Linked DNA regions of Homo sapiens. The protein of the gene in region 1 interacts with the protein of each later gene in a pairwise test. Each region holds a gene or a part of one and is shown on either strand. Other genes may lie near its edges.

The links.
Region 2: the proteins of SPANXN2 (region 1) and GPRASP3 interact in binary tests that used the Homo sapiens proteins (3 or more experiments, as listed by UniProt).

What each region holds. Positions count from the first base shown.
Region 1 is NC_000023.11:143,711,433-143,714,613, forward strand, and holds the end of SPANXN2 (sperm protein associated with the nucleus on the X chromosome N2), read right to left. Parts: intron 1,068-3,181; coding exon 603-1,067; 3' UTR 523-602; downstream 1-522.
Region 2 is NC_000023.11:102,727,237-102,730,768, reverse strand, and holds part of GPRASP3 (G protein-coupled receptor associated sorting protein 3), read right to left. Parts: intron 1-3,532. UniProt on the Homo sapiens protein: Survival and differentiation promoting protein that plays a role in the regulation of neurosynaptogenesis. Induces phosphatase PP2A activity which results in APP dephosphorylation and inhibits BACE1-mediated processing of APP.

The DNA of each region.
Region 1 (3,181 bases):
TGGCCAGATCTCAGCTCACTACAACTTCCGCCTCCTGTGTTCAAGTGATTCTCCTGCCTCAGCCTCGCATGTAGCTGGGATTACAGGCACCTGCCACCACTCCCAGCTAATTTTTGTATTTTTTTTTTTTAGTAGAGACTGGGGTTTGCCATGTTGGACAGGCTGGTCTCGAACTCCTGACCTCAGGAGATCGTCTGCTTCGGCCTCCCAAAGTGCTGGGATTATAGGCATGAGCCACCGTGCCCGGCCAATACAGATCTTTTTAAATGCCCTTCTACATATTCACATGCTCCAAACACCAAGTCCTTTTCTTCCTCTCCTGTTAGATAAAATTTTAAGAAGAAAATTTGTCTCTAGGAATAAGTCCTCCCCCAGGCCTTATTTACAATGTCTGGGAAACTGTCAACCTGTGGGTCTGTCCGCCAACCCTACAGGATCTCATATCCTTCCCTTCTCAAATGCCTACCTCTTCCCTTCCCTTCCTTCCCACCATCAGACAACAGGCAGAGATATACACGGTCATCAGCTCCTCAAACTTGATTTTATTGTAATCATCGCCATTGGTAGTGAGGATTTGTCCAATTTGGTTTCTCCATGTTTGACTAGTCCTCCCCACCCTCCTGTGAAGATCCTTCAGATGAGTCTAGGTCTTCGTCCTCCTGTGAAGATCCTTCAGGTGGGTCCAGGTCTTCGTCCTCCTGTGAAGATCCTTCAGATGAGTCCAGGTCTTCGTCCTCCTGTGAAGATCCTTCAGATGAGTCCAGGTCTTCGTCCTCCTGTGAAGATCCTTCAGATGAGTCCAGGTCTTCGTCCTCCTGTGAAGATCCTTCAGATGAGTCCAGGTCTTCGTCCTCCTGTGAAGATCCTTCAGCTGAGTCTAGGCCTTCGTCCTCCTCCTCTTGGACTGGATTGATGGAGTTCTCTCGGGACTGGTCCTTCTCCAGTTGATTTGAATTTATTTTCGTATGCTTCCTGTAGTAATACACTATTATTGTTAGATATTCTATTGTTTTTGTCTTTTGCAAGCTCTGTTTGGGGGCTAAGACCCTGTTCGGTGCCTCCTGCATCTGATAAGAAAACAGGGAGAGGCCAGAAAGTCATTATTTTGGGTGAATAGGGTAGAGACTGGATAGCAAGGGGGGCTTTATGAGAAGGAATGCAGGTTGAGGAAGGGGTTTGTGCCAGAGAAGAACAAGGTGGAATCATAGGGTAGTGATCTATGGGGAAGAAGAAGAGGAGCATGGGTAGGGTCATCTGTTAGTCCAAACTGCACGATTTCGCAAGTTCTTTGCTATTTTGCAGACCTTGGTCAAAGTGAGACACTCCATGGGGGCTCAGGCCGTGAGAAACATCCTGCCTAACCACCTGACCACAGGGCGGACAAAGGCCCAACTAAAGAAACATTCCTATCATATCTTGCTTGGCAAAGTTCTAAGGAACGCCACAATGATATTCCACTGGAAAAAGGGCCAAACCACCTGATCATAAGAACATCTTATCAATATCCTGCCGGATAGCATCCCACATTGCCCAGATCCCTCCTGCCCATCCCTGTAAGTACCCCAGCCTGTAAGCGGCGGTGGGCTCTGGCATTAAGCTTGTCCTCCACTTCCATAGGTGTCTGCCATATTCCTGTGTTGCTGTTTGAGCTGCCCCCTGTGTGTCTTTCTTTCATCCTTGCCTTCCCTTCAAAACCTAACATTTTGGTGCCAAAACCTGGAGTGGTGATTGGGTTCTAATGGGTAAGTTTTCTCTTGCAACCTGGAAAGCAGCAAGCAGCACAAACTAGACCAGGGCCTGCTTCCAGATCCTGAGTGTACTCCCTGTTCCCAGTCCCATTCTCCTTATTCTCTAGTCTTCTCCAGACCTGGGCTAACCTCCAGATAGTGATCAAACAAGCCACCTTATTTTTTGTTCCTTCCTGTTTCCGGGCAGCTGCAACAAGGATCACCCCCATTTCTGGACATCACATCCAACACTGGGCTTCAATTAGTGGGTGAGTCTCCCTCTTCCTCCTTTCCAGATTCCTCTCTATTTCTGCCCGTTCTCCAAAAAATTCCAGTGCTGGGTGAGAGGTCTCCCCAGTCACCAGGTGACTGCAGCCTCCCTTCTTAGGGTACACCTTCAAAACGTTTGCCACTCTGGCTGCTCTGGCCTCTGGGGAGCATGAATAGTACGGGGCTGCCCCAACTCTCCAGGTCCCTTCTCCCAGGAGGAATCAAGTACTCACTTCCCTATGGGGTATTCACTTCTCTCTGGAGTACTCGCTCACCCCTGGGGTACTCACTCCCTTCCAGGGTACTCACTTTCCTCAGGGGTAGTCACTCCCATCCAGAGTATTCACTCCCCTCTTCCAAAAAACAAAACATTCAACTTCCAAATTCAACATAATCTAAAAAACTTTCTTCAATGCAATGGTAAATAATCTGAAGTGCTTTGCTTATCTCCTTTCATGCCTCACTCTCTCTCTCTCTCTCTCTCTCTCTCTCTCTCTCTGCCAATCTTGTTCACCTTTTCAAATCTTCCTCCTCAAGGAGAAACCCCCCAAAATGCCTCTTCCTCCGGACAAGTCTTCTTCCTCTGAATTTCAACCTGGCCAACACACCCGTTCTTCAGCCTCCTGCCCTCTCCCATTCCCTCCACCTTCTCCTTCGGATCCGGCTCCTCCACCCCCTTACTGTCGCCCTCCATCCCCCTTCCTTCTCCACCTCAAACCAGGTCTCACACCCAACCCCCTTTCGCTAGGAACCAGGCACATGCCCAAAGGCCTTCCAAAGTCCTTCCCTTGCAGGAGGTTGCGAGGGCTAAAGGCATAATCTGAATTCAAGTTCCCTTCTCTCTAGCTGAGTTTTCCCATATTGAAAGGAGACTTGACTCCTTTTCAATGGATCCAACCTCCTTCCACAAGGAATTCTTGTACTTCCCTAAATCTTATGACCTTACCTGGCATGACATATATGTCATCCTCTCCTCTACCCTCACCCTGGAGGACAGGGAACACATCTTTATGGGTGCCCAGGTCCATGAGAACACCCTCCACCAACAAGATGCTGCTCATAATCCAATAGGGACCCTAGCTGTCCCCAGAACTGGCCCCAGTTGGAATTATCAGGCAACTTCAGTAGACAGACAGAAATCAGGCCATATGATATCATGCCTTCTAGCTGGCATAAATAAAGCT
Region 2 (3,532 bases), about 41 Mb from region 1:
TTACACATTTTCCTTACCTTATGTAAAGTGCTGATTTACTGTGAGCCAGAGGAATACAGAATTGACTATTCCTGTTTCTGCTCCTTTTCCCTTGCATCATGTGGATTACTGTACCCTCCCTCTTCCCCTCTAGCCTGCTGTTTCCATTTAAATATTGAAGCCCTCAAAATTATCTTTGGATAAAGGCACAGACCACAGACTGTTTCTGTGATTCCATGCTCTTTTCTTCTGGGAATGTCTTCACCTTGGCAAAATAAACTTCTAAATCAATTGAGACATGTCTTACATACTTTTTAGTTTACACTATTGACCTATCTTCAAGCTCAGGAGTCCCCAGCCCCTAGGCCACGGACCTGGACCCGTCCATGGCCTGTTAGGAACTGGGTCACACAGCAGGAGGTGAGTGGCGGGCTAGCCAGTAAATCTTCATCTGTATATACAGCCACTCCCCATCACTTTCATTGCCGCCTGAGCTCCGCCTTCTGGAAGATCAGCAGTGGCATTAGATTCTCATAAGAGCACAAACCGTATTGTGAACTGCACATGTGAAGGATCTAGGTTGCATGCTCCTTATGAGAATCTAATGCCTGATGATCTGTCACTGCCTCCCATCACCCCAAGATGGGACCATCTAGCTTTACAAAAACAATCTCCGGGCTCCCAGTGATTCTACATTATGGTGAATTGTATAATTATTTCATTATCTATTACAATGTAATAATAATAGAAATAAAGTACATAATACATGTAATGCACTTCAATTGTCCTGAAACCATGCCATTCGCCCCCCAGTCTATGGAAAAATTGTCTTCCACGAAATCTGCCCCTGGTGCCAAAAAAGATTGGGGACTGCTACTCAAGCTTGCTGAGTCTTTCCTCAACTGTGTCCAGTCTACTGATAATCCCATCAAAGGCATTCTTCATTTGCTGGAGTGCAGTGGCACAATTTCGGCTCACTGCAACCTCCACCTCCCGGGTTCAAGCGATTCTCCTGCCTCAGCCTCCTGAGTAGCTGGGATTACAGGCACCCGCCACCACGCCCAGCTAATTTTTGTACTTTTAGTAGAGATGGGGTTTCTCCATGTTGGCCAGGCTGATCTTGAACTCCTGACCTCAGGTGATCTACCCACCTCAGCCTCCCAAAGTGTTGGGATTACAGGCGTGAGCCACTGTGCCTGGGCTCTGTTACAGTATTTTTGATTTCTAGCATTTCCCTAAATATTCTTCTCAGGGAGAGTTTACATTTTGCAGCTCTTTTAACTGTTATTCACTGTTATCCACTATTATTATAATAAAGCCTTGTTAGCATGGTGGTGAAGTGCAGAGGAGAGGAAGTGTTCTATAATATTATGATTAAATTTCAGTCTTTTGTGGGCCTGTGTCCCTGGGCTTTGATTTTCATAAGAGTTTTATTTTAGCGCCTTTCTCTCCCTTACATGAGACTAGAAACCTAAAGGGGGCTGAAATAGGAGAAACGCCTTTCCCTCAGCTGAGATAAGGCTCTGATAAAGTCTTTTCCACCACAGAATAGGCTTTTTTTTTAAAAAATGAAGAAGGCTCTGGGTGTATTTCACAAAAGTACAGTTCCCTTCCCACTGCAGGGGCCATGAGGCCCTTCACTGCAAGAATATGGTGGGTTTCTTGGAAGTAATGCCCACAAAAGTGTGGGGACCTCCCTGACTGCAGATCCTCAGGGGTTTCTCACTCTCATATTATTCCACACTCAGTCTCCAGCAATTCATCAAAATTACATTTAAGTGCTCTTACCTATTTATGTCTCTAGCAGTTTCTGTTCTATGAAAGAAGAAATAGGCTGTGACTCTCTGGATTTGCCTTCAGAATTTGGGGTAGTCAACTGTCCTATGCCTCAGTTCTTTGAAGAATCTAAGAAATGTTGTTGATTCTGTTTGTTCAGATTTTTTTCTGGTTGTAAGTACAGGAGCAATGACTTACAAGTTCTTACATGTTGGAACTGAAACTGGAAGTCTGGCTATGGGTTTTAACAGGGAAGCTAAAGAGCAGTGAAAAATAAAAAATAAAAAATTTAAAATGGGCTGGGTGTGGTGGCTCACACCTTTAATCTCAGCACTTTGGGAGTCCAAGGTGGGAGGATCGCTTAAGTCCAGGAGCTCAAGAGCAGCCTAGGCAACATAGCAAGACCCCCTCTCTATTTAAAAAAAAAAAAAAAAAAAAAAAAAAGCAGTGCACATTGCTTTTGTCTGCTTCTTTTCTGCTGAACATCACATCTGGGAATTAGGTTGCCCTGGAAAACCCAGCTGCTCCATAAATATTAGCTCTTTTCACTCCCAGGTACAGGAAATTTATGGGGCTCCCTGAACCTGACATCTCAGCCCAAAAATTTGTAATGTGCAATGCAAATTAGACTTTTGACCTCCTGAATCAAAATTCCTGGTAATGGCCATGCACAATGGCTCATGCCTGTGATTCCAGCACTTTGGGAGGCCAAGGTGGGAGGGTCACTTGAGTGCAGGAATTCAAGACTGGCCTGGGCAATGCAGTTATACCTTGTTTCTACAAAAAATCTTTAAAAATTGAAAAATATATATATTATTGGTAATGAAGTCTGAGGAACTGTAACTTAATGCTAGGAGAGAAAAGTTGTCTATGTCACTACCACCACCACCACCATCAAGAGGCAGTGCATGATACTATTAGAATCTATAGTTTACATTAACTGCCTAATGATTGTTAAGTGCTTGCTTAGACTAGAGTAACTAGTTTCTGAGCCCTGGGAGTACATTCTAAAGGGAGTTTGTACAGAAGAGTTGGGAGTACCCAGATTTCAGAGCCAGACAGTCCAAAGTCTGAATACAGACTTTGTCACTATTTGTGTAACTTTAGCAAAGGTACTTAACGTCTTTATAACCCAGTTTCTTCATCCTTAAAAGGGAGCTGGCATTAACTACTTTACAGGATTATTGTGTATACTGAGAAAACTATTTGATATCCTGCACAACATGTGTATATCAGATCTTTCTAGTTCTTTTAAAATTTCTGATCTATTCCTATTATGGAGTGGGCTGGAGAAAGCAAGAAAGAATAGATGAGAACTACATGGTTTTTAAAGGTCATAATTGCTAAGTCAGTGTCACTGTGCTCTTTGTGCTGTAGCCTCAGTGCTTTGTATATTCTGTGTTGCTTACCATAACCCTTTACTAAAAGGATGCCATTTTTGCATAGTTGCCACTGCAGGTTACTGACTTTCTCCTCCTTTTAGTCACATGTCACAGAGAGGCTAATTCCATTTCCAAGAGTGAGTCTCTTTGGTCTACGGATAATCTATCCCCTTGGTACTCTCTTGTTTAGGAAGAGGCATTGATCAAATTCCACTCAATGTGACATTAGGGGAAGGTTACAGATGGACTTCTGAGGAAAGTGTCCTCATTCATAAGACAAAGTCATCAGAAAAGATTGTCTTTTCTTCTTCCTCAGGAAGTTGCTTACCTCCTGGAATTGTTGTAGCCATCAAGCTATCAGCCTTAGGACGGAAGTTGATATTGTGAATGGCAGA